Homo sapiens: one gene and its partners. The protein of the gene in region 3 interacts with the protein of the main gene of each other region in a biochemical or structural test. Each region holds a gene or a part of one and is shown on either strand. Other genes may lie near its edges. The genes, in order: TRIM63, TRIP11, THRA and C1D.

Region 1 (7,037 bases), on a different chromosome or scaffold from region 3:
TGGGTACCTATTGTGTGCAGGCGCTGTTCTAAGTACTTTCAGGCATTTTTCCTATCTGCTTCTCATAGTAACCCGGGAAGGCATTCCTGTCTCCATTTTACCATGAGGAAATGGAAGCTCAGAGAGGATCAGAGATTTGTCCAAGCCCACACAGCTAGCAAGTGGTAGAGCTAAGAGAGAGAGGGTGTGAGAATATTTTTTATTTTTTTAATTTTTTTTTTTGAGGCAGAGTCTTGGTCTGTTGCCCAGGCTAGAGGGCAGTGGTACGATCTTGGCTCACTGCAACCTCCACCTCCTCGGTTCAAGTGATTCCCCAGCCTCAGCTTCCCGAGTAGCAGGGACTACAGATGCGTGCCAACGTGCCCAGCTAATTATTATATTTTTAGTAGAGACAGGGTTTCACCATGTTGGCCAGGCTGGTCTCAAACTCCTGACCTCAGGTGATCTGCCCGCCTCAGCCTCCCAAAGTGCTGGGATTACAGACGTGCACCACCACACCCAGCTAATTTTTGTATTTTTTGTAGAGACAGGGTTTCACCACGTTGGCCGGGCTGGTCTTGAACTTCTGACCTCAGGTAATGCGCCCGCCTTGGCCTCCCAAAGTTCTGGCATTACAGGCGTGGGCCACCGCGCCTGGCCGGCCGGTGAATATTCTTAATTGCTGAGCTAGATTGCCTCTCATGTTGCTAGAGCACAACACTACAAAATGCAAACATATTGTTGATCATAAGGAATAATAAAATCAATTCCACACCAATGTTAGCCTACCCAGTGCCGACCTATGAAGAGCATGTTATATGTGAACCTTTGAGGCCTTTCCGCATAGTTGAATGACAATGACAGCTGCCCTCTATTGAGGGTCTGCTCTGTGCCGGGCACTCTACATTCATTATAGACAATTTCTACAGACAGATTGCAGTAGTTCTGGGAGGAATCCCACAGGCAAGAGAGGTGAAATCACTAGTCCAAAATCACAAAAATGAATGTAAGAGAACAATCTGGATATGAACCCCGATGCCAAAGTCTGAGCTTGGGAGGGTGGGCATCTGGGAGGGCTGCGGGCGCATGAACCAGACCCTCAGGCTCTTGCCTCACCTCTGCACTCCCTGCCATCCCTTTATCAGGGGATGGAGGCAGGTGGCAATGGCAGACCCCTGCCAGCATAGGGACCCTGGGGTAAACTATGCAAAAAGACAAGCCTGGAAAGGGGCATATTTAAGAACTTCAGAGGACAATAGAGCCCAGGGTGTGATCAGTCATGTAAGGCTGTTTGGAGGTGAGGCATTGACACTGATGGGAACAGTCACCATTTGACATTTGCAAGATGCCTGTTCTGTTTGGGGCTGGGAATCGAAGGTAGTGTTGGCTTTCAATGAGTGTATAGTCTAGCCGGAGACAGAAGACTCAAAAAATCGAATCTACACCAGGCATGGTGGTATGCACCAGTTGCAGCTACTGGGGAGACTGAGGTAGGAGGATTGCTCAGCCCAGGAGTTCGAGGCTGCAGTGTATCTGTGAATCGCTGCTGCACTCCAGCCTGGACAATATGGTGAGACCCTGTCTCAAAACAAACAAACAAACAAACAAACAAACAAAGGCTGGGTGCTGTGGATCACGCCTGTAATCCCAGCACTTTGGGAGGCTGAGGTGGGTGGATCACATGAGGCCAGGAGTTTGAGACCAGCCTGCCCAACATGGTGAAACCCCATCTCTACTAAAAAATACAAAAATTAGCTGGGCATGGTGGTGCACGTCTGTAATCTCAGCTACTCAGGAGGCTGAGGCATCAGAAACTCAGGAGGTGGAGTTTGCAGTGAGCTAAGATCACACCACTGCACTCCAGCCTGGGCAAAAAATCAAAACAGAACAACACAACAACAAAAAAATCCCCCCCAGGCCCCAATGAATCTAGGTTAGGAAATGACTGATGTCCCAAGAGAAGCACAAATAACAGGTTGGAGGTCTCAAGGAAGAAAGGTAGTTCTAAGCATATGTGTTAGGGGAGAAAGTAGAGGAAGAGACTTGGGCCTTTGAAAGAATCTCTGGACTAGAAGTCAGGCTTGTGCTGGGCTGTTGGACAGCCCTGGGCTACCCACTCACCAGTCACCATGACATGGGGCATACACACTGCTCCTTCTCTGAGCCTCAGGGGCAACCTCATGGCTCAGAGAGGGTCAGAGGTTTATCCAAGGCCATACAGCTAGAAAGTGGTGAAGCTAAGAGAAAGAGAGAGGGTATGACTGACTCTGTGGTGAATATTCTTTTTTAAAAAAATTGTTTTCTTATGGAGAATGTTAATAAATTCAAGATGGTGAATATTATTGATTCCTATGCTAGTTATTAATTTATTCTTTCTTTCTTTCTTTCTTTTTTTTTTTTTTTGAGACGGAGTTTTGCTCTTGTTGCCCAGGCTGGAGTGCAATGGTGCGATCTCGGCTCACCGCAACCTCTGCCTCCTGGTTTCAAGTGATTCTCCTGCCTCAGCCTCCCGAGTAGCTGGGATTACAGGTGCATGCCACCATGCCTGGTTAATTTTTTTGAGTTTTTAGTAGAGACGGGGTTTCATCATATTGGTCAAGCTGGTCTTGAACTCCTGACCTCAGGTGACTCTCCCACCTCGGCCTCCCAAAGTGCTGGGATTACAGGCGTGAGCCACTGCGCCCAGCCTTATTGATTTATTCTTTCTACCTTTGTTTAATTACCACCTCCTCTATGCCAGGCACTGTACAGTGTAGGCACAGGGGTGAAGAAAACAGGCAAGTTTCCCTACCTTGATGGAGGTTACAGTCTGGTAGATTAAATATAGAATTAAATGAGGCCATCAGTATAAATTTCTCAGCTCAGAGCCCAGCCTGCAGTAACCAAAGCTAAGGTGACTATAATTAGAGCAACTGAACTCTAGGCTCCTCTGCCCTTACTTGCTGTATGACCTTGGACGAGTCAATTCACTTTTCTGGAGCCCAGTTTCCTCTTCTCTAAAACATCTCCAGGTCTGACTCTGGAATTCTATGGCCCTTTCTGTGTCCTTGGCACTGGCAGAGCCTCAGGCTAACTCCCTCTTAGGATGTGGGGACAGATTTGGTGTCATTGGCTTCCCAAGTCCTTGGTCCCCAGAAGATGAAAGATTTTAGGGCAGCCAAACACTGAGGGCCCAGGGCATAAATCTGGAGATTCACAGACACACTGCAGCCTCGAATTCCTGGGCTGAGCAATCCTCCTGCCTCAGCCTCCCCAGTAGCTGCGACTGGTGCATTGGAGCTGGGGAGGGGGATGCAGGGACACAGGACCCCCATGACTTGTGACTGTTCTCCACTGCAGTCGGCCGCTGCAGAAGGGCAGTCACCCCATGTGCAAGGAGCACGAAGATGAGAAAATCAACATCTACTGTCTCACGTGTGAGGTGCCCACCTGCTCCATGTGCAAGGTGTTTGGGATCCACAAGGCCTGCGAGGTGGCCCCATTGCAGAGTGTCTTCCAGGGACAAAAGGTACTGTCTCCAGCCACTTTTACCCCCAGCCTGGGCCTGCTGGGCACGGCCTGATGATTCAGGAGGCAGATTTGATCCCTGTAGATCTGCTGATCTGGCCTTTCAGGAATAGTCTCTCTGGAGGGACTTCCCAGGCCACAGGGACAGCAGCCCTGGCCTTCCTAGGGGAGGCAGCTGAGCTCATGGTTATACTTAGAGCCACTCGAGAGCACCTGGGTGTGGCCACAGGGGAGCGGTCAGACGCCCCAGCCAGGCCACTGGGGTCCTCTCAGGCCACGGCTTCTCCATCCCCCAGACACCTCTTCCTGTGCCTCTCACCTCTTCTCCAAGACTTCACATTCCCCCACAGCAGGAGGCAGCTTAGAGCCTTCTCCCTGGGTCCCTGGGCCTGTGAGGGCCCACCACCCTGTCCGTGCAGTAAGCCGTAGCCACCCCCTTTCCATACTCTCTCTTCCCTACTCCCCACTCTTCTCTAGGTCTCTCTCTTCTAGACGTCTCCAACTCTATTTCTTTTTTTGTCCCTTCTTTCTTAGAAACAAGCCCCTCCTCTGTCAGTTCCTTGCTGTGTGTTTTGGGCAGCTCACTTGCCTGCTGTTGGCCTCACCTGTAAAATAAGGGATGCAGTATCTTTCTAATATCCTCTACTCTGGAGCTGAGCTATACCCGAAAGAGGGGCCAGATCCCTACTGGAGGCTCTTTCTAGCAGAGAGGGGAGGGAGGAAGCCATGTTGCTGCCATGCCCCAGTGGGTAGGCCCTGAGGCTATTTGTGTCTCTCCTCTCCTGACCCCCACACCCCCATCTAGACTGAACTGAATAACTGTATCTCCATGCTGGTGGCGGGGAATGACCGTGTGCAGACCATCATCACTCAGCTGGAGGATTCCCGTCGAGTGACCAAGGTGAGCGGACAGAATAGTCCTGCCTGGGGATTTGGAGCTTTCCAGGGCAGCCTGGTCTCTGGGGAAGGCTCACCCATAGGTTGTGGCTAAAGGTTGGGGCCCGGAGCCTGGGGCGGTCAAGCAGGGATGGCAGGGGAGGGACTAATCCATTCATCCAGTCTCTCAACAAATGCTTCTTAAGCACAGCTGTGTGTCCGGCCCCACCCAAGATGTGGGGGATGGAGGAGTGAACCAGACAGACGTGGTCCCTGAGCTCAGGGAGTGTCCCATCAATAATTCTCAGTATTTATTCAGCACAAATTGTTTTCAGAGCACAGTTCTTCAGTGTGCTGTAGACCAACACTTCCCAAACTTTGAAGTGCGTGAAAATTACGCTGGGATCATGTTGAAATTCAGGTTTTGATTCAGTTGGTTTGGAATGAGGCATAAGAGCTGCATTTCTAGCCAGTTCCCAGGATTTGCCCAAGCTGCTGGGTCCACAGACCACATGTTGAGTAGTGAGACTGTTGAGGGCAGAAGGGAACTTTTCTATCCCTGAAAAAAGCTTCCACGATTTTCCATGTTCACTTGGGGTAGGGATCTGGAGATGAGATGAGGGGAAGGGGTCATCATAATTGCTAGTGGATGAAGAGTTGGGCGAAGGGTAGGAAGGAGGGGAACATTGTGATCACCCACGAGAGGCTCCCGGTCTGATGAGATGCTATTGTCACACCCATTTTATAGAAAAGAACATAGAGAGAAGGGAGCTTCGGTTGAGGAGGGTGCTAGGAAAGGAGCTGTTTTTCCACCTCTCCTAGGACCAAATGATGCAGAGCTTCCCGAATCCAGTCTTGGTCCTGAAAGGGAGGGAAGAGTGTGAACTGGGACATATGGGAGGCCCAGGAAACGTTAATTTGTTGAAGGTCACACAGCTAAAAGGGAAACACAGCTAAAAGGCAACAGAGAGCTGGGCACAGTGGCTCATGCCTATAATCCCAGCACTTTGGGAGGTCAAGCTGGGTGGATCATGAGGTCAGGAGATCGAGACCATCCTGGCCAACATGGTGAAACCCCATCTCTACTAAAAATACAAAAAAATAGCCAGGCGTGGTAGCGTATCTATAATCCCAGCTACTCGGGAGGCTGAGGCAGGAGAATCGCTTGAACCTGGGAGGTGGAGGTTGCAGTGAGCCAAGATCGCACCACTGCACTCCAGCGGGGGCAACAGAGCGAGACTCCATCTCAAAAAAAAAAAAAAAAAAAGGGCAACAGAGAAAGACAGGGCAGATCCCACATTGGGTGACTGTTGCATTGGTCTAAGAGGTGATGCTCCAATGACCAGCTGAGGTTGGGGGACAGGGGGAGGGTGCAGGAACAAGGAAGAACATGTTGTGTCATGTGACCCTAGAGCCTCTATTTTGGAAGAAGGGGCTAGCTGTTTTTCAAGGCATCATCCTCCAAATATCACTGGCGTACTAAATAGCTGTGAGGCCAGATGAGTGTTTTCTTCTTGTTAAGTCTTTGTTTCTTCTTCTGTAGTGTGGGGATGTATGTAGTGAGATCTCTTCTAGCTTTAGATTCCTTGCTACTGTCCTAGGAAGGCAGTGTAGTGGGCAGGGAATAAAGACCCTACAGAACGTGACCACAAGACTTCCGTCCTCAGGAGAACAGTCACCAGGTAAAGGAAGAGCTGAGCCAGAAGTTTGACACGTTGTATGCCATCCTGGATGAGAAGAAAAGTGAGTTGCTGCAGCGGATCACGCAGGAGCAGGAGAAAAAGCTTAGCTTCATCGAGGCCCTCATCCAGCAGTACCAGGAGCAGCTGGACAAGTCCACAAAGCTGGTGGAAACTGCCATCCAGTCCCTGGACGAGCCTGGGGGAGCCACCTTCCTCTTGGTGAGCAGGACTAGAAGGGTCTGGGTGGGGTCAGTTCAACTCTACAGCTCTAAGGTTCAAGTTATGCTTCCCCACTGACCACCCATGGGCCCTTGGAAAAGCCATTTAAACCTCTGTGAGCCTCAGTTTCCTCATCTGTCAAATGGGCATGTAACACCCCCCACCTTCCTCTTACTGATTTTATGATGATAAGATAAGAGGATGTTTATGAAATGACTTTGTAAGCTGCAAAATACAGTGTCCCATCTACAGACTATTAATTGAGCCCCTACTGTAGGCCAGGCACTGAGGTGGAAGACAAGGAGATAAACCAGACACAGCCCTGCCCTCAAAGAGCTTGTTGGGGAGGACAGAAAAGGCTCAGTTATAAGACTTCATAGTTCAGTTCAATAAAAATGTTCTAGGCTTCTACTGTGGGCCAGGCTTTTTGCTAGACATTAGGTATGAAAAGGTGGTTAGGATTGGGGAGTTCAGGGTTTAGGAGTTTTGGGATTGATACCCCTAGAATCCAAGCTTCCTGTCAAGACAGTGGGTCCTAGGGTGATGACCAAGACCTGTACAGACCACAGACAGAGGGAAAAGTTCCAGATTCTGCTCAGTTTGGGGTGGGGAGCAGGTCACAACTGGGCTAGGGAATGGCACCAAATATCTACCTACAACACCTAGTTCACTAGTTTTGCTGATTTCCTGCGGTTACCTCTTCTGCGGTCCTAATCCTTTGTTCTCTCTCCCCCTGCAGACTGCCAAGCAACTCATCAAAAGGTCAGTGTCTTC
Region 2 (7,000 bases), on a different chromosome or scaffold from region 3:
AGTGGCGGGCGCCTGTAGTCCCAGCTACTTGGGAGGCTGAGGCAGGAGAATGGCGTGAACCCGGGAGGCGGAGCTTGCAGTGAGCCTAGATCCCGCCACTGCACTCTGCACTCCAGCCTGGGCGACAGAGCGAGACTCCGTCTCAAAAAAAAAAAAAAAAAAAAAAGAATTGATGAGTGAATAATATATTTTTAAGAACAAAAAAGAAATATGGCTTTCAGATCAATTAGTCATTCAACAGGAAAATACTTCACTCTGCATTATTTTGTGACAAGGACTTAAACCATTTCATTTTGCTAAGCAGATACATGACAGTATTCTTTTTTTATTTTTATTTTTTATTTTTTTTGAGAGTCTCGCTCTTGTTGCCCAGGCTGGAGTGCAATGGTGGGATCTTGGCTCACCGCAACCTCTACCTCCCAGGTTCAAGTGATTCTCCTGCCTCAGCCTCCCAAGTAGCTGGGATTACAGGCATGTGCCACCACGCCCAGCGAATTTTGTATTTTTAGTAGAGACAGGGTTTCTCCATGTTGGTCAGGCTGGTCTCGAACTCAGGTGATCCACCCACCTCGGCCTCCCAAAGTGCTGGGATTACAGGCGTGAGCCACCATGCCTGGCCATGTGACAGTATTCTTTCATCATGTATATTTGTACACCAACATTTACTTGATATGTTCATATGTAGAAGGCTGAAAGCAGGTGTGTACACAAAGGCAACTGGGAGGAAACAGATGACACAGAAATGAAAAAAACTCAGTGGACTGATCATTCTAATTGGCATTTATAAATCTAAGAATAAACATGCTTTTGAAATTATAGAGCAAAGATGACAGCCATCATCTCTTCAATAAAATCATGAGCCATTAAAATTTTCAAAAGTATTGCTTTTAATGACACAATCAAGAACCAGGCTGGGCATGTGGCTCATGCCTGTAATCCCAGCACTTTCAGAGGCCAAGGTGGAAAGACTGCTTGAAGCCAGGAGTTTGAGACCAGCCTGGGCAACAGAGCAAGACATCGTCTCTACAAAAAATTTTATTTATTTATTTATTTTTTTATTTACTTACTTACTTACTTATTTATTGGAGATGGAGTCTTGCTTAGGCTGGAGTGCAATGGTACGATCTTGGCTCACTGCAACCTCCACATCCCGGGTTCAAGTGATTCTCCTGCCTCAGCCTCCCAAGTAGCTGGGATTACAGGCGCCCACCACCATATCCAGCTAATTTTTGTATTTTTAGTAGAGACAGGGTTTCACCATGTTGACCAAGCTGACCTCAAGTGATCTGCCCACCTCAGCCTCCCAAAGTGCTGGGATTACAGGCATGAGCCACCGTGCCTGGCCTATTACAAAAAAATCTTTAAAAATTAGCTGGGTGCGGTGTTGCATGCCTGTGGTACCAGCTACTCAAGAGGCTGAAGCAGAAGGATCACTTGAGCCCAGAAGTTCAAGGTTGCAGTGAGCTATGACTGTGCCACTGTATTCCAGCCTGGGCAAAAAAGCAAGACCATGTCTCAAAGCAACAACCACAACGAAAAGAACTAGAAGTAATAATAACCTGAAATCTATTAGAGAGGTAACTGAACTTTGGAATCAATATTTTACAAGATAAAGATATTCCAGGTTATACAATTAAGGGTTAAAAAGCAGTTCACTGAATTCAAAGAACATTGCTTATTTTGAGTCTTTATGCTTTCAAAACCAGAAAAAAATTAAATAAAAATTTGGATTTGCTGTATTTAAATTATTAAAATGTCTTTTTCTTTTTTTGATACAAGGTCTCACTCTGTTGCCCGGGCTGGAATACAGTGGCAGGATCACAGCTCACCGCAGCCTTGACTTCCTGGGCCCTAAGATCAGGTGATCCTCCCACCTCAGCCTCACAAGTAGCTGGGACTACAGACACCCACCACCACACCTTGACTAATTTTTTTATCTTTATTTTTTGTAACCGGTCTCAAACTCCTGGCCTCAAGCCATCCTCCCACCTCCACCTCCCAAAGCGCTGAGATTACAGGCATGAGCCACTGCGCCCAATCTAGACCCTAATAATGAATAAAACATTAAAATTAATTTGCTATTCCTGTATCCTTTTTTTCTTTTTTTGGATGGAGTTTTTCTCTGTCACTCAGGCTGGAATGCAATGGCGTGATCTCGGCTCAGTGCAACCTCCGCCTCCCAGTTTCCAGCAAGTCTCCTGCCTCAGCCTCCTGAGTAGCTGGGATTACAGGTGTGCACCACCACATCCAGCTAATTTTTTTGTATTTTTAGTTAGAGATGGGGTTTCACCATGTTGTCCAGGCTTGTCTCAAACTCCTGATCTCAAGTGATCCACCCACCTCGGCTTCCCAAAGTGCTCAGATTACAGACATGAGCCACTGTGCCTGGCTGCTATTCCTATATTCTTAACTTTTTTGTATCCAAATATTATTATCATTTTAGTGTTTAAAAAGCTCCAGGTTAAACAGAATTGCATTCTTAATATTATACTTAGCTGGGCGTGGTGGCTCACGCCTGTAATCCCAGCACTTTGGGAGGCTAAGGCGGGTGAATCACGAGGTCAGGAGTTTGAGACCAGCCTGGCCAATGTGGTGAAACCCTGTCTCTACTAAAAATACAAAAATTAGCTGGGTGTGGTAGCGTGCACCTGTAGTCCCAGCTACTCGGGGGGCTGAGGCAGAAGAATTGCTTGAACCCAGGAGGTGGAGGTTGTAGTGAGCCAAGATAGTGCCACTGCACTCCAGCCTGGGTGACAGAGTGAGACCCCGTTTCAAAAAAAAAAAAAAAAAATTATTCTTAAATAAATGTGCCACTGCAATTTAGTATGCTGTTAGAACACAGTAAACTCTGGATTATGATAAATTATTGATACTATTATTTCTACATTTGGCAGTTTTCCTACTTATACAGAAATAGAGATGGGAATATTAAAGAATAGCAAACTGCAGTAACAGGTAAATATATTTTTCATCTACAGAAGGTTGATAAAAGCTCAAAAAACAATCAAAATTAAACAAGAAGAGAAAAAAAGTGCTAAGCAGTACATTTAAAAAGAAAGGATCAAAGTAATGTTTGAGTAACCTTCATGACTTCAAAAAAGAAAAATCTAAGTAGTCTTTGATTTTTCTTACCTCTGATCTCAAGATTGCATGAATGGCTTCAATTTCCTTTGTCCTAGAATCAGGTAATTCTGCTACAAGAGAAATAACAAATATTGAATATTTAATCAATACCATATGAAGTAATAAATAGGTATTTTCAAGAAAATATATTTCACTGAGTTTACACAGAATAGTAGGCTGATATGAAAGCATTCAGAAGAAACAAATCGCTTTATTTCCATAACAACTTTTCACTGACACTAATGTTCTTCATTGTCATAAAAGTCATTCTTTTTGCCTATGCCCTGTATCTTAGGATGTCTACCTTTACCCCTTAGAAATGTTCATTAGAATTTTGTTGTGGGAAATTAAGCTTTAGAAATTAAAACTATTTCTCTGTGGGCTAATGCTGCTATAATTTTAGATGAAGCTTACTCAACTGGGGCTTTAGGCCTTATTTCTAACTGTAAGAATTAAAGAAAGAGGAGAGAAACACAAAGGGTGGCTTGCCAGTTAAGACAGGTTTATTTTAGAGAAAACAAACCTGAGAGGGGTGTTCGGCTGAGTTAGGTTAGAGGCACACTCTTTTCCAGACTAAGAGTTTTTAAGGATTTAGGGTGGGAGAATTTATTAGAGGCTTAGACTGCTTCTGTGTTTTTTTGTAGTGCTTATCTGGGAGGGAGAGTTGTGTATTTGTTCCATTTATTCTAGAGCTGCAGGCATACCCCCCGAGTCTGCTTTAGCTTCCCTATTTTAGTGCACCTGAAGGGAAAGGAATGTGCTTTCTAAGGCCCACTGCTTTACTGGGGCCCACTGTATGAGAGTGAAGTTTGGCAGTTACCCAAGAGACTTTACCCCCACCTCCCTTTGTGCCCGAGCACTCCCTCTGTATGTGTTTTACTGTCTGCTTTTTCTGGCTGCTTGTAGTTAGAAGAGAAGTGACTTCCTTGAAATGCATGAGGCTAGAAAGGGAGCTGGAGGTCAGGTACGGTGGCTCACCGCCTGTAATCCCAGCACTTTGGGAGGCCAAGGTGGGCGGATCACGTGAGATCGGGAGTTTGAGACCAGCCTGGCCAACAGGTAAAACCTCGTCTCTACTAAAAATACAAAAATTAGCCGGGTGTGGTGGCACACGCCTGTAATCCCAGCTACTCAGGAGGCTGAGGCAGGAGAATTGCTTGAACCTGGGAGGTGGAGGTTGCAGTGAGCCGACACTGTGCTACTGCACTCCAGCCTGGGTTACAGAGTGAGACTCTTGTCTCCAAAAAAAAAAAAGGAAAGGGAGCTGGAACTTAAAGTGGCACTGTTTGTCTGAGATAACAACAGTGCTCCTGCTCTGTCACTAACTTCTGCTCTCAATACTATCAAATAATAAGTGACCTATAAACGAAGAAAAATACACTGAGAACACTTATTTAAAGTAACATAGACACAATTTATTAAAAATGGGAATGAGCTCAGTCTGGTTTTCTACATTTTCATCTTTATTTTTTAATTTTCTTGGAAAGGGTCTCACTTCACTCTGCCACCTAGGCTGGAGTATAGTGGTGTGATCATGGCTCACTGTAGCCTCAAACTCTCTCGCTTCAGCCTTCCAAGTAGTTGGAACTACAGGCACATGCGACCACACCTACCTAATTTTTTTACTTTTTTGGAGAGATGAGGTTTCACTGTGTTGCCCAGGCAGGTCTCGAACTCCTAGCCTTAGGGAATCCTCCACACTCAGCCTCCCAAAGTGCTGGGATTACAAGTGTAAGTCACCATGCATGGCCCTTGGTTTTGTACATTTTCATTTAAAAGTAGAGTGAGAGCCCAGCAGTGTCAACATGGCACCACTAATGCTGTTAGAAAATCATCATCTGGCTGGTCTCGGTGGCTCATGCCTGTAATCCCAGCACTTTGGGAGGCCAAGGCAGGTGGATCACTTGAGGTCAGGAGTTCAAGACAACCCTGGCCAATATGGCAAAACTCCATCTCTACTAAAAATACAAAAAAAAAAAAACTGGCCAGTCATGGTGGTAGGTGCCTATAATCTGTAATCCCACCTACTTAGGAGGCTGAGGCAGGAGAAATTGCTTGAACTGGGGAGGCAGAAGCTGCAGTGAGCCAAGATCGTGCCACTGCACTCCAGCCTGGGCGACAGAGCAAGACTCGGTCTCAAAAAAAAGAAAAGAAAAGAAAATCATCATCCAGAGTTAGATTTTTTTTCTAAGTACTAGTATTTTTTTCATTACTCACAGCTCTTTAATATAAAAATAACTTATCTGGACTACAGTTTATTAGGAGTGTCCAATCTTTTGGCTTCCCTGGGCCATACTGGAAGAACTGTCTTGGGCCATACATAAAATACACTAACAATCGCTAATGAGCTTTAAAAAAAAAAAAATCGCAAAAAACCTCATTTTTTATTTATTTATTTATTTATTTTTTTTTTGAGACAGAGTCTCGCTCTGTCGCCCAGGCTGGAGTGTAGTGGCACAATCTCAGCTCGCTGCAACCTCTGCCTCCTGGGTTCAAGTGATTCTCCCACCTCAGCCTCCCCAGTAGCTGGGACTATAGGCCTGCGCCACCATGCCCGGCTAATTTTTGTATTTTTTAGTAAAGAGACGAGGTTTCACCATGTTGGCCAGGCTGGCCTTAAACTCTTGACCTCAGGTGATCCTGAGGCCCTCCTCAAAGTGCTCCCAAAGGGCTGGGATTACAGGTGTGAGCCACCGCGCCCAGCCAGAAAAACTCATAACATTTTAAGCACGTTTATGAATTTGTGTTGGGTCTCATTCAAAACCCATCCTGGGCCACATGTGGCCTGCAGACCACAGGTTGGACAAGCTTGGTTTAAATCAAAAGAAGCATGCAGTAATTACAGTGACAAACACTCTTGTTTAGAAAATCACCAGGTAGGGTTACATCTGTGGTTGGTTGTACATCTTGCTTGAAACTATGAAAGGACTGTTTAATTGCTACTCTGAAGAGGACAAGTTATAATCTAATTTGTTTAGGAAGGTAATTGTTAAAAGCAGCAACTATTTTAAAGAGGGATTTTACAAGTCCATGCAAACTCCACACCTCCCCCAACAAGAAAAACTTGGCCTTTTTAAGTACAAAGGGGAGATATTATGCAGACAAAAATATTCTGACTTTGTCAATAAGGGCAAATATGACATTTACCATTCATTAATGTTTACGATTCGGTAGACACAATTCCAGGCATTTTACACTCATGATTTCATTTAATCCTCTCAACCTCACAATAGGTATGATTATCCCTATTCAACATATAAGGAAACTGTGCTTTTGGAGGTTAATTTCTAATAATTTGCCAAAAATCCCACAACTTGTAATGCACAAAAGCAGAATTTCAACCCATGTCTCTCTGATTTAAAAGCCCAAGCTCCTAACCTTGAATAAATCAGTAGTGTTAGGTAAAACTGCAACCTTCTGATATTGTAAATATGGATGGCTTTCAAGTTGTCCACATAGTGCTATTTTGGAACTGTTTTATTTTTCATTACTGACACAGGGTAAACACTAATAAATACTTGTTCAATGAATAAAAGAACTGTACTCTGACCCTCCATTCCCTTTATTTTTTTAGACAGGGTCGTCTCTGTCACCCAGGCTGGAGTTCAGTGGTGCAATCGCAGCTCACTGGAGCCTTTAACTACTGGGCTCAAGCAAACCTCCCATTTCAGCCTCCCAAGTAGGTGAGACTACAGGCACATGCAGCCATGCCCAGCTAAAAACTTTTTGTAGAGATGAGATCTCCCTATGTTGCCCAGGCTAGTCCTCAACTCCTGGCTTTAAGCTATCCTCCCACTTTAGCCTCCCAAAATGCTGAGATTACAGGTATGAACCACACCTGGCCAGACCCCTATTTTTAAAAATTTACAAAATCAAT
Region 3 (6,575 bases):
AGGTCAACATACACAGATAACATACACAGACACACACACACACATGCATACACATACACCCAGCACACAGGCACACATGCAGACACATACACGGACACACACACACACCTAGCATACAGATACGTACACAGACACACATACACACACACATACACCCAGCACACAGACACACACACACCTAGTACACAAACACACACACAGATACATAGAAACACACACAGACATATACACCCAGCACACAGACACACACACACACACAGACACACACCCAGCACACAGGCACACACACACACACACCTAGCACACAGCCACACAGATACATAGACACACACACACAGATACAGACACACACACACACACAGACATATACACCTAGCACACAGACACACAGATACATAGACACACACCTAGCACACAGACACACACACACAGACACACCCAGCACACAGGCACACACACACACACACACCTAGCAGACACACACATAGATACATACAGACACACACACAAACACACAGGCACACACACACAGCATACAGACACACGCCAAGGTCTGGCTGCTCTAAGAAATCAGCCGGCTCCAAGTGCTCCCCTCCACAGCCCCTCATCCTTCAAGTCTATGCGGCCACCCAACTCCAGGCAGCCTGAAAGTTCTCATTTTCCAGAGCACTAGTGCTGGAGACAGGCTGCCCTACTAGCCATGTGACCTGGGGTAAGTTACCTCCATCCCCTGTGCCTCAGTGTTCCCATCTGGAGTGGGCTGGGGATAATGATGGGTGCTAACTCACAGGCATAATTTTTTTTTCTTTTTTGAGACAGATTTTCGTTCTGTCACCCAGGCTGGAGTGCAGTGACGCGATCTGGGCTCACTGCAACCTCCGCCTCCTGAGTTCAAGCAATTCTCCTGCCTTAGCCTCCTGAGTAGCTGGGACTACAGGCATGTGCCACCACGCCCAACTAATTTTGTATTTTTAGTAGAGATGGGTTTCACCATGTATGTTGGCCAGGCTGGTCTCGAACTCCTGACCTCAAGTGATCCACCCGCCTTGGCCTCCCATAGTGCTGGCATTATAGTCGTGAGCCACTGCGCCGGGCCTCACAGGCATAACTGTGAGGCTTAAATGGAATAGGGCATGCACATGGCCCAATACAAGGTCAGCCGTTCAGAGTCCATGGGGGCCTTGCGGGCCTCACGGCTCCCGTAGGACACTCTAGGGGAGACTCAAGGACGCGGGGAGGGGTATGCTGAGTGCTCCTGTGGCCCTGCCGCTCCACAGCTGCCTTGCGAAGACCAGATCATCCTCCTGAAGGGGTGCTGCATGGAGATCATGTCCCTGCGGGCGGCTGTCCGCTACGACCCTGAGAGCGACACCCTGACGCTGAGTGGGGAGATGGCTGTCAAGCGGGAGCAGCTCAAGAATGGCGGCCTGGGCGTAGTCTCCGACGCCATCTTTGAACTGGGCAAGTCACTCTCTGCCTTTAACCTGGATGACACGGAAGTGGCTCTGCTGCAGGCTGTGCTGCTAATGTCAACAGGTACCTGCTGATTAGTCGGGAGGGCTCAGAAGCTTCCAGGGGTCCCAGAGATTGGCTGGACCCTGGGCCTGTTGCTCAACTCCCTCCTGAATCTTCTTCTGGGCTACCTCTCTGTCACCTGGGCCATCCCCTATCCCCTGTTCCTTGCTCTGTCACACACTTCTCACTCGTTCCCCAGGCCCATCCCTTGCCTCCCCATCCCTGCTCTGTGCCTTTTCCTGTCTTTGTCTCCTTCCTTCTCGCTGCCCTGTCCCTCTGTCACTCACATTCCCCTTTGTTCCCCACTCCCCACTTTGTTCTCAGCCACCTTCCATCCCCTCATCCCTCCTCTGTCTCCCAGTCCCATCTCTTACCCCTCAGTCCCCTCCCTAACCCCATCTGCACCCCGCCTCTCTGACCACCAACCTCAGTCCTCCCCACTCCAAGGCTCCTCTCTCTCCCCCAGCCCCCGGCCTGTCCCTCTGTCCTCCTTGCATTGCCCCCTCCCCCCAGTACCCCCCTGCCCCTCTCCACTTCCCAGCTGCCTCCCTCTCCCTGTGCTTCTCCTGTCCACGTCTCTCAGGGGGAGCTTCTCCCCTCCCCTCCCCCAGCCTCTCTGCCTCTATCTCCCCTCTAGTCCTTTCTTCCCACGTCCCCACACCTCACCCTCCCCATCTCCAGGCCTTCGGCCAGCCCCTCGCCCCTCACGCCCCTCTTCCCTCACAGACCGCTCGGGCCTGCTGTGTGTGGACAAGATCGAGAAGAGTCAGGAGGCGTACCTGCTGGCGTTCGAGCACTACGTCAACCACCGCAAACACAACATTCCGCACTTCTGGCCCAAGCTGCTGATGAAGGTGACTGACCTCCGCATGATCGGGGCCTGCCACGCCAGCCGCTTCCTCCACATGAAAGTCGAGTGCCCCACCGAACTCTTCCCCCCACTCTTCCTCGAGGTCTTTGAGGATCAGGAAGTCTAAAGCCTCAGGCGGCCAGAGGGTGTGCGGAGCTGGTGGGGAGGAGCCTGGAGAGAAGGGGCAGAGCTGGGGGCTGAGGGAGACCCCCCCACACCCCTTCTCTCCTTCCTCTCGTCCTTGGATAGATTCAGCTCCCACACACACACCCGCACTGCCCAGGTCCCTCCTCAGACCTCCAGCCCTGGGACAGGGCAAACAACTGAACTTGCTATGGAAAGGACAGTGTGGGAGGCTGGGGGAGCTGTGTCCTGCAGTTCCCAGGACCCCATCCTCTCAGAAGGTAGGGGAAGGGCGGGAGGATTGAGAAGGGACAAGCCACCTTGACCGTAGGGGAAGGAGGAATGTGGGCTGGGGGAAGATGCCCTCAACTCACCCCCTACACACACATGAGAGAGAGCCCCCACCCAGTTCCTTGGCCTAGGTCTCCCCTCCAGGCTGAGGGCCTCTCTACTTCCCCAGATGCCTGGGTGCAAAGAACGGCTTGGCTTGGCTCCTCCTCTGGAGGTTAAAATTTATAGTCATTCTAACTGCACTTTGGAAACCAAGCAAGGGGAGAAGACAAATGAAGAAAAACTAGACAGAGAGAAAAATACAAAAAAGAGAGAGCGAGCGATAGAGAGAGATGATATTAAGTTATTAACTGAGGCTGACCAGAGGGGAGGACCCCCCCTTTACCACCCCATGCACTTTGCGAGCTGCCCCTTCTTCCCCCACATCAGAGAGAAATGCCCCCACACCAGAGCCCCAAGGGTAGGGCTGCCGATCAGAGCTGTGAGTTAACACAACAGGGTCCTGGCCACCCCCCTTGCCATACCCCGCCCTCTGTGCCCCTTTGGCACCCCCCAACCCTAGTATGTCCTCTGCTTTCTGCCACTCGTGCCCGCTGAGTTCCATCTACCTCTCATGCTGGATGCCAGCTGGCCCCTCACCAGCCTGCCCTGCTGCCCACACAGCTCCCCTTTAAGTGCCCAGCCCTAGGGGCCTCTCCCCATCCACCTCCTCCTTCCACACCTTGGCACCCACCCAGGAAAAAACTGTGGCTCCAACTCCTACCCTCCTTATATCCTGCAGTATTAGCTAGAAACCGGATGCTGCTGCATTGGTTGGGTCGGGGGTAGGAGGGCTGTGCGTGAGCGTCTCCCAGAACCCTCCACCCCTTTAGCACTCTGTTTCCCTGTTTCCCATCTGTCTTCTGGGCTCTCTCTAACCTCTGCCCTCCTCCCCAGCTCCTACTCACTGCACTAACTCTGGGCGGGCAGGTACCAGAATGGGGGTGTTTAGATAAGTGACACTTAGTTGGGGCCCCAGGGGAGGGGTGGTCGGTGCTCCTTTTTCTTTAAAGCTCTTTTGGCCAGCTGCCCCTCTGCCCCGGGACCCCTTCCCCTCTTCTTTTCTCTAATTCAGGGACTTTGGCTTGAGCCCCTCTCGCCCTCCTGGTGAGGGTGCTCTGTTGGTCTGCACTTGGGTGAGCTGTCCTCCTCCCCCTCCCTGTGGCTGCCGCCCACTCCTCAGGGGAGAGAGGGAGAGAGGAGGTGGTCCTCCCATGGGAGCAGGAGGTGGGGTGGGACAGAGCAGACCAGAGGGTGCTGGGCTCAGGGCTGCATGTCGGCAGGGATGGATGGGTGGACACAGATGCCCCCGGAAGCCATGGGGATTGGGGCAGGGGGTGGGGGGAGGGGTGCCAGGGCTTCCTGCGCTTTGCACTATTGGGGCAAAAATGTCTTAAGCAGTGGGGAACCTGCCACCCCACCCTGACCCTCAGCCTGCCACAGCCCCCTACACACACACACACACACACACACACACACACACACACACGGACATGCACACACGGACATGGGAAGGCAATGCTATGCTGCCCGTCAGGGCACTGTCCTTCCCCAATCGTTCAGGTGTTCCAACAGGGGTGGAGGGCCTGGAGGAGCACCCGCTGTCACCTGTGCATGTGCCTGTCCCACCCTGCTGGGGCCTCGGGCTGCCCGCGCTGTCTTTGTCTCTATCCTCTCTCTCTCTCCTGGAGTACTGAATCCTGTATTACTCCAGTCCCATGGGTAGGCCCTCTTGTACCTTCCTACCACGCCTGGGGGCCCAGTGGAATTCCTGACCTGTCTGCTGTCTTCCCCATCCCTCCATCCCCACCCCAACCCCTCCATCCCCATTCTCAGCCATGGACACGGCAGAGAAAAGGCCTTGAAGAGCCTTAGCCTCTTATAGGCACTTGGGACTCCCCCACCCTCCCCAATCATATGAGCTGTGATCCCATCCTCCCCGGACCCCTCCCTTCCCCCTCGGTGATGTGGGGTGTATGTGTGCGTTCCTCTGCGTGAATGTGTGAGTGAGTACACATGGTAGGGGAGGAGCCAGGGCGACTCAGGAGTGCCACGCACCTGCTCTAGAGCGGCAGCTGTCCCAGTCCCTGCTGTGGAAGTGGGGGACAGGGCCCTCTCCTGGGGGCCATTGGTGCTAATGAGGGGGATGGCCTTGATGTGGGTGCTCAGCATGCCTCCCCCAGTATTGGCCCGGGGCACTAGGGCAGGCAGGGTGGAGCAGCAGGTGCAGTATCGGTGGGAGGACGGGTTGCTGGGAATAGGACGAGGGGGCCAGGCCAGGACAAGGGGTTGCCAGAGCCATGACCACTACCCCGCCCCCACCACCCGCCTCTCCATCTCAGTATTGCCCCTCCCATCACTCATAACACACATACCTCATCCAGCCTCCTCCCTGCTCAGACTTGGGGAGGGTGGGGGAGGAGCCCCTACCCCTTCTCCTGGTGGCGGGTCTGCAGGGCTGGGAGAGGGCAGGGCGTTGTGAGAGAGAGACCGTCCATAAGGAGGACAGTAACTCCTGCCCTGGGAACTCCTGGGCGGGGGGGAGGGGGACACTGCCCAGAGGCGCTACTGAATGTATGAGAAGCTGGTGCTGGGCTGGGGGGAGGGGGGTTGTGGCCAGAAACAGGGAAGGAGGTAGGTCTCTTCCCCAGGGAGGGGTGGGACCGGCAGGGGTGACTTGAGGGGCTCCTACTCCTGCCCCACGTTGACAATCAGTATGTCTGTTATGTGCGATTTTTCACCCCGTTGTGTTTTGGGTCAGGATTTTAAAGAAAGATATTTTTATGGTAATTGTTGCTCGTCTATTTTACTATATATTTATGTAATAAATATATGATGAAAATAACCCCCTTGGGCACCCCCCTTAGACTTGTGTGCTGTTTCCCTATATCCTCCCATCTGCTGGCAGAGTACCCACCCCACAAACTGACCAGATGGAGAGGTGGCCCCCCCCAGCCTTGGCAGTATTTCCACCCCACCCCCCAAACGAGCACACACCACAGAAGCCAGCTCAGCTGTGAACTATTGGATTTGAGACAGGAACAGAACAAATCAGAGGGCCAGGGGAGGGTTGTGGGGGAGACAGAGTGGTTTAAATAGGGGAGGAGGGGAAGTTCGGTGATGGGGGAGGGAGGCAGGTATTTACAAGAAGGCTCAGGGGGCCAGAGGCTCATCTTGGAATATTTTATAACAATATAAATAAGATTCTGGTTTGCTTTTCCTTTTCGTCTCGTAAAGGAGAGAGAAGTGCAGAGTTCGATTCTGTACAAGGGGGCAGCGGCAGAAGGCCGGCCGGGCGGGTCACTGGGCGTCCACCCGGAAGGACAGCAGCTTCTCGGAATGCATGTTGTTCAGGGTCCGCAGGTCCGGCAGCTTGAGCAGCAGCTTGGTGAAGCGGGAAGTCTCCAAGGGCCGGTTCTTCAGCACCAGAGCCCGAAGAGCCCGCAGCAGCGTCTCCTGGAGCTGCTCCACCGAAGCGGAATTCTCCATGCCCGAGCGGTCTGTGGGGAAGACGACAGCAGTGAGGCGGACTCCCCGAGCTCCTCTGAGGAGGAACCGGAGGTCTGCGAGGACCTGGCAGGCAATGCAGCCTCTCCCTGAAGCCCCCCAGAAGGCCGATGGGGAAGGAGAAGGAGTGCCATACCTTCTCCCAGGCCTCTGCCCCAAGAGCAGGAGGTGCCTGAAAGCTGGGAGCGTGGGCTCAGCAGGGCTGGTCACCTCCCATCCCGTAAGACCACCTTCCCTTCCTCAGCAGGCC
Region 4 (7,037 bases), on a different chromosome or scaffold from region 3:
ATAAGTTTTTGATGTCTGTTAGTCATCTAAGTGGAGATGTTGAGTAGGCAGTTGAATATGTTCATTCTGGACTTCAGAGTGGTCATTGCTGGAAACAGACGTTTGGGAATTGTCAGTGAACAGATGGTATTTAAAGTTGTGAGACCGGAGACAGTCGTTAAAGGAGTAAATGTAGACAGAAAAGAGAAGGGGCACAAGGCCTGAGTCCTTAGGCATTTTAACAAGTTGGGAAAATGAGGAATAACCACCAAATGAGACAGACTGAGCAGCCAGTGAGGGACAAGGACAATTTTGAGTCTGGTGTTGTAGAATTTACAGTAGAGTAGTATGTTCAGTTTTGTCAGGTGCAGCTGATGGATCAGGTGAAATGAAGATTGACACCTTTGGATTTATCAAGAACTTAAGGAGTGTTATTGATAGATATGTGATAATGTTAAGTCAAGCAGATAGTTGCACACCAGTGTGATAACTGTATTACAGTTATATTCAGAGAACCTTGGGAGCAGAGGAAGAAGAGACCACTTTTGTTTGGGAGGTATGGACACCTTTATAGAGGAGGGAGCATTTGAGGTGGGTTTTAAAGGATTGATAAGTTTCACTAGGCCAAGAAAATGGAGACTGTTATGAAGAGGAGGTTGATATGATTTGGGTATGTGTCTCCTCCAAATCTCTTGTTGAAATGTCACTTCCAGTGTTGGAGGTAGGCCTAGTGGGAGATATTTGGGTCATGGAGGCAGATTGAATGTCTTGGTTTGTCCTTGAGGTAATGAGTTGAGTTCTCACTCTATTAGTTCACTCCTAGAGCCGGTTGTTTAAAAGAACATGGAAGCTCCTCTTTCTCTTGCCACTTCTCCTGCCCTGTCACATGCCTGCTCCCCCTTTATCTCACCAAAAGCAGATGCTGACACTATGCTTCTTGTGTAGCCTGCAGAACTGGGAGCCAAATCTAACCTCTTTTCTTTATAAATTACCCAGCCTCAGGTATTCCTGCATAGCAATGCAAAACGGAGGAACACGGGTATTCCAAGTAGAGGGAAAGGACTATGACAGGACCTCAATTCCCTTCCTTCATGGTCACATCTCCCAGTTAGCTGTTTTAAAGATGCTTTTGTCAGTCCTCTTTCCTCTGTGGCCACTTGCTAATGCCCCATGTTCGGTAGCTCCAGGCCTGCTGAATGTTGCTAAGGAAATCGGAGATTCTAGTCACGTGGAGTAGTGACAGGAACAGAAGTTGAGTGTGATGTTGGGGAATAGGGTAAAGATGGGAGTTAAGGCTGGAAGGGTTAGAGGAATAGATTTTCAGGGAGGAACAAACCTTATATGTTGTATTAAAGATTTTGTCCAGAGAGCATCCCACACAAATCCACTGATGGGATTTGTGAGGGATGTTCCTCCTCCATTCGATTTGAGTTCCATTCTGCCGAACTTTACCACTTACCAGCCCTGTGACCTGTTTCTGTTGTGCCATCTGTAAAGTGAAGCTAATATTAGTGCCCAGTCGTAGAGTTGTGAGAACTCTCTCTGCCCGCACTACAGTTTTTGTCTGCTTAATTCATCTCTGTCATCGAGTGCTTTCTTGAGGAAGCTTTCTGTCTTCCCTCAGATTGTCATGTACACTAGTTTATAGTCTCATAGCATGATTTATTTCTTCATATTACTGTTGTAATTTTATATTTCTGTGATTCTTTGATTAATGTCTATCATCCACACTAAACAGTAAGTGCAGAGCAGGCAAGTTTTTGCTCACTATTATCTTCCAAGTATCAGGGCTGCCTATCATGGAGGCTAATTAAATATCTATTGAATAAGAGAGTCCTTAGTGTCTGGCATGTGGTAAATGCTCAGTAAATATTACTCATTTACATGACATTTTGCAATAAGTGCTGAGGAGGTATCAGGGATAAATAAAGGAACTGTCAGGCAACTGACAGAGGACCTGTTGCAGTTGGGTAGCATTAATTTATGTCTTTTGTGAATTTCGTTAGGAATGAATGTTCAGTAGGCCTAGAGCTAGAATGGTTGGCTGGGGGCAGAAAGAGAAGATGAGAACTTGCAAAAGCATCTTTAAACCAGTTGACTGGGAGGTATGGCCATGTAGCAAGCAGGCCAGAGGAGGCTTTTGTACCATGAGAATAGAGGAAAATAGCCGCCTGGTGGCTAGACAATTTAGGTGTAGAAAACACATTTATATGGTTCTTTGAATGTAACAGTGGTAAAGAATATAGGTTTAGTTGTTGCTGCTAAGTAGGGGGAAATGACATTTTTATCTGGTATGTTTGAGAATAAAGTAAATTTCAAAATTTGAGATGATCGAAGTTTTTATTTATAAACTTAAGTATTATTATAATATGTTACATATTTTATTCTTTAAAAATTGTAATTCAGAGAGTGTAACAAAATGTACTTCCTCACTTTCTTGCTTTTTGTTTCCCAGAAGTGACCACAGTTAACAGCTTCTTTTGGATCCTTTAAGAAAACTTACATGCATATACCATACAAATATGCCTCCACATTCATATATCTTTTTTTCTTCAAAATAAATGGGATGAGCTGGGCGTGGTGGCTCACGCCTCTAATCCCAGCACTGTGGGAGGCTGAGGCAGGCAGATCACCTGAGATCAGGAGTTTGAGACCAGCCTGGCCAACATGGTGAAACCTCATCTCTACTAAAAATACGAAAAAAAAAAAAATAGCAAGGTGTGGTGGACGCCTGTAATCCCAGCTACTTGGGAGGCTGAGGCAGGAGAATCACTTGAACCCAGTAGGGGAGGTTGCAGTGAGTTGAGATCGCACCACTGCACTCCAACCTGGGCAACAAGAACGAAACTTTGACTCAAATAAATAAATAAATAAATAGGATGTATTATACATGCTGTTCTTCAACTTTTGTTCACTTAATATATCTTAGGAATCTTTCTAAGCTGTACCTCGTACCTTTTCACTACTGCAGAGTATTTTAATAGGTGGGCATATCATAATTTATTTAACCAGGTTCTAATAATGGATGTGTGGGTTGTTCTGTTTTAAAGTTTACTGTTTTAAAGATCATTGCAGTGGAAGTCCTTAAACATTATCTTGCGCTAAAATATACTTTGAGAAGTAAAATTGCTAGGTCAAAGCATGTGTACATATGTGATTTTGAAGCATAGTGCAGATTACCTCACAAAAATGCTAAACTAATTTATACCCTGACTAATAGTGAATGGGAGGCTGTTCTCAGCTCACCTTTGTCCATTTTAGTACTATTAATCTTTTTAATTTTTCCCTATTTGACAGATGAAAATGGCATCATATTTTAGCGATTTATGTTTCCTTAATTATCAGTAAGGCTGAGTAGCTTTCTTTATGCTTATTGGTCATCTGGATTATTTGTGAACTGTTGATTTTCTTGTTTATTTTTCTTTTGGGTTGTGTGTACTTTTTTTGTTATTGTTAAATTGATTCATAGAGGCTTTAAAAAAATCTTTGTGTTGCATATGTCTTTTTTTAGTTTTTTATTTGACATTAGTCTTGGGTGTTTGTTTATTTGTTTATTTTGCCTGCATTTTTAAGGGCCAGGTAAAAATACAAGAAATTAGGATTTTTTTTTTAAAGAAGGGAATTTGCTGGGCTCGATGGCTCACACCTGTAATCTCAGCACTTTGGGAGGCTGAGGTGGGCAGATCACAAGGTCAGGATTTCGAGACAGCCTGGCCAACATGGTGAAACCCCGTCTCTCCTAAAAAAATACAAAAATTAGCTGGGCATGGTGGCACGCACCTGTAAAAGGCAGGAGAATTGCTTGAACTTGGGAGGCAGAGGTTGCGTTGAGCTGAGATTGAGCCACTGCACTCCAGCTTGGGCGAGACAGCAAGACTCTGTCTCAAAAGGATTTTTGTGATACTCTTGAAATAAATAGACACTCTAGAATGTGAGCCTTTTGTTGGAAATGTTAGTAATACAAACTTCATTTGAGACTATATGTTCAGCAACTATCACAGATGTAGTGAGCACCCAGTAACCTTCCTCTCCCTCACTCCAGTTATATTTGGAATTGAAATGAGATGTAATGGAGCTGCTTAAATATTCTAGACGACACCTTCTCTTTAGTTATTCTCCTATATATGAACGGAGTTGTATTCTAAAAGCTAGTTTGTGAGTTAGCCATCTAATTTCACTATAGAAATAATGTACATAGGTTCTTATCTTTGCTCTCAAAGTTGTAATAATTTGTGGAGGCTACTTTTTTTTTAAGCAAATTCAAAATGTTACATAATTTTACCCCTCTATACTTCAGTGTGCATCCTCAAAAGACAGGGAAATTTTCTTATATAACTGTATTGCTATTATCATAGATGACAGAATTATCAATAATTTGTTGGTGTCATCTAGTACTTTGTCCATGTTCAGATTTCTTTCTCACAGAACTATCTTTTTCCACTTGGTTTATTTGAATCAAGATCCAAACAAGGTCTGTGTATTTCATTTGGTTGTTACATCTCTTAAATCTCTTCTTCCTCTGTCTTTCTTCCCCCACTTTTTTTTTTTTGCTTCATGCTGTTGACTTGTTATGGAAACCTGGTCAGTTATCCTGTAGAGTACTGTATTTCTCACTCCATATTTGTTTGCTTTCTTGTGGTGTTAATTTGTTCCTCTATCCTTTGGATTTCCTATAAAATGGAAGTTAGCTCTGTAGGCTTAATTGTTCAGATTCAGCTTTTTTGGGAGTTGGGAATGCTTTGCAGATGGTGCTGTGTATGTTATATTGCCTCACATCAGGAGGTTCATAATATGTGCATTTCACCTACTTTTAGTGATCTGTTGGTGGTCATTGACTAAACCTACAATTTCATTAGGCGTTGCAAAGTCGTGATTCTTTTTTAAGTTGTCATTTCTTCTACATTTGTTAGCTAGAATTTGAAGTCTAGTTCTGTTACTTGGGAACCTGATAATCAAAATAAGCTTGTTGTGGGAAAGTATTGTCAGAGCAACAATATTTTTGATGCTAGGAATGCATCTTAGTGCAATAGTCTTTTTTTTTTTTTTAAAAAAAAAAGAAAGGATGTGGGCCTTGCTCTGTTGCCCAGGCTGGAGTGCAGTAGTGTAATCATAACTTACTGCAGCCTCGAACTCCTAGACTCAAGTGATTCTCTCACCTCAGCCTCCTGAGTAGCTAGGACTACTGGTGTATGCCATCACGCCCAGCTAATTAAAAATATTTTTTTTTTTTTTAGAGATGGGTCTGTCTGTGTTTCCCAGGTTGATCTTGAACTCCTGGGCTCAAGTGATCCTCCTGTCAGTCTCCCAAAGTGTTGGAATTACAGATGTGAGCCATGGTGCCTGGCTGTGATTGTCTTTTTAATGTTTCAACTTGGTTTGGCTGTAGCCCCCAGATATTTAGTCAAACATGAATGTAGGTGTTGCTGTGAAAGTATTTTGAAGCTATGATTAAAATCCATAATCAATTAAGTAAGGGAGATTATTCTAGATCATCTGGGTGGGCCTGATTCAATCAGTTGAAAGGCTTTAGAAGCAGAGCTGAGGTTTTCCTTCCAAAAAAGAAGAAATTCCACTTGTAGACAGCAGTTTCAGCTAGTAGCCAAGAGTTCCAGCATGAGTTCCTCCCTTCATAGCCTGCCCTATGTAAACCAGTTTCTTGCCATAACTCTCTTAATATATATCTCCTACTGGTTCTGCTTCTCTAGTTGAAACCTGACTGGTGCAAAGGGTAACTCCTCTGATGCTTCTGTTCTCCAGCTAAATGGGATGGGAAGCGGTAGTAAGGGTCAGAGAACTTGCATTGTTTAGGGTAGCCATATAATTTTTTGTTCAAACTGGGACTTCTGAGAAAGAAAGGAGCTGAGTTGATGGCAAGCTGAAACAACAGGCGTAAGGTGGAACTGTCTTGGGCAAATTGAGAGTTATAGTCACCTTGTGTGTCAGCCACTGGGGATACAACATGAATATGACACAGCCCCTCAAGGAGCATGTAGTCAAAGGAGAAGTCAAGTAAATAAAAATACATTAAGAGATAGTGTTTTAAGTGACATGACAGCTTATAGTTGTTGTATTTGTCCAGACAGAGAGCATAGAAGGAGAGCATGCAGAGAAGTCTTCACTGGCCGAACTGGAACCTATTTTTTACCTCCAAAGATAAGCAGCGTTTGAAAAAAGTGGAGTTGGAAGGGCATTTCAGGCTTAGAGAATCACACAGGTGAAAGTTGAGAGTGAGAGAGCACGGCACATTTGGAAAACTGCCATCATGGCCACAGCTCTAGGATTGGAAGAGGGGAGCCATGAAAGATGAGGTTAGGCAGACAAGCAAGGGCCACATCATAATGGGCCTTGCATCTACGCTGAGGGGTTTGGAACTGTCTTCCATGTGGGAGGGAACTGTTGCAGAATTTTAAACAGAGGAGTACCATGACCAGACTGTTTAAAGCATATTTTGTAATATTCTAAAACTGGGAGTGGAGAAAAATTGATAATAGGGACACTACTCAAAGGCTGTTGAAATAATCTAGTCAGTGAGAATAGAGGAAAGCTTGTGGTGTAAGGAGATTAAGGGAGCCATATTGACAGGACTGATTGGATTTGGGGTGCCTCCCAGGTTTCTGCCTGGATTGGCCACCCTGAAGTGGAGAATTAAAGGAAAGAGGTAGCTGATGACTTCAGTTCTGTATGTGATGCTATGCACTCTTGTTTTCTCCTATCGGTACTTTGGCTTCTGTATAACCAGTGAGAGGAAGGACTGAGTGGCAGTAACATCTGTTAGGGTTACTGGGCAGCATCCCCGCAACCCAGGTACTCAGTCTCAGCCACACCTTACTGAGTGGTGAAGAGAAGCAAGTTTTCTCATGCCCTCTCCGTCTGTCTCTACCTCTGCAGCCAGTGTTTTAGAAGGAGTATGTGGAAGGGCAAGGAGTACCTATAGAACCCCGGAGGAGGGTGAGGAGCAGAGCTGGGTGAGTTCTTTTCTTCTTTGGAAATTTTAACATGTACAACTTTAGGCATGTTCTTTAACTTCTTTTGGCTCAGTTTATTCATCTGTGAGGTTT

The links.
Region 1: the proteins of THRA (region 3) and TRIM63 form a complex in vitro, tested with the Homo sapiens proteins (one study listed by BioGRID).
Region 2: the proteins of THRA (region 3) and TRIP11 form a complex in vitro, tested with the Homo sapiens proteins (one study listed by BioGRID).
Region 4: the proteins of THRA (region 3) and C1D form a complex in vitro, tested with the Homo sapiens proteins (one study listed by BioGRID).

The regions. Positions count from the first base shown.
Region 1 is NC_000001.11:26,057,616-26,064,652, reverse strand, and holds part of TRIM63 (E3 ubiquitin-protein ligase TRIM63), read left to right. Parts: intron 1-3,318; coding exon 3,319-3,487; intron 3,488-4,291; coding exon 4,292-4,387; intron 4,388-6,029; coding exon 6,030-6,263; intron 6,264-7,002; coding exon 7,003-7,025; intron 7,026-7,037. UniProt on the Homo sapiens protein: E3 ubiquitin ligase. Mediates the ubiquitination and subsequent proteasomal degradation of CKM, GMEB1 and HIBADH.
Region 2 is NC_000014.9:92,030,060-92,037,059, forward strand, and holds part of TRIP11 (thyroid receptor-interacting protein 11), read right to left. Parts: intron 3,195-7,000; coding exon 3,133-3,194; intron 1-3,132.
Region 3 is NC_000017.11:40,086,965-40,093,539, forward strand, and holds the end of THRA (thyroid hormone receptor alpha), read left to right. Parts: intron 1-1,277; coding exon 1,278-1,536; intron 1,537-2,241; coding exon 2,242-2,492; 3' UTR 2,493-6,038; downstream 6,039-6,575. Other genes in the region: NR1D1 (nuclear receptor subfamily 1 group D member 1), read right to left, coding at 6,119-6,318.
Region 4 is NC_000002.12:68,052,968-68,060,004, reverse strand, and holds part of C1D (nuclear nucleic acid-binding protein C1D), read left to right. Parts: intron 1-6,867; exon of another isoform or gene 6,868-6,944; intron 6,945-7,037. UniProt on the Homo sapiens protein: Plays a role in the recruitment of the RNA exosome complex to pre-rRNA to mediate the 3'-5' end processing of the 5.8S rRNA; this function may include MPHOSPH6.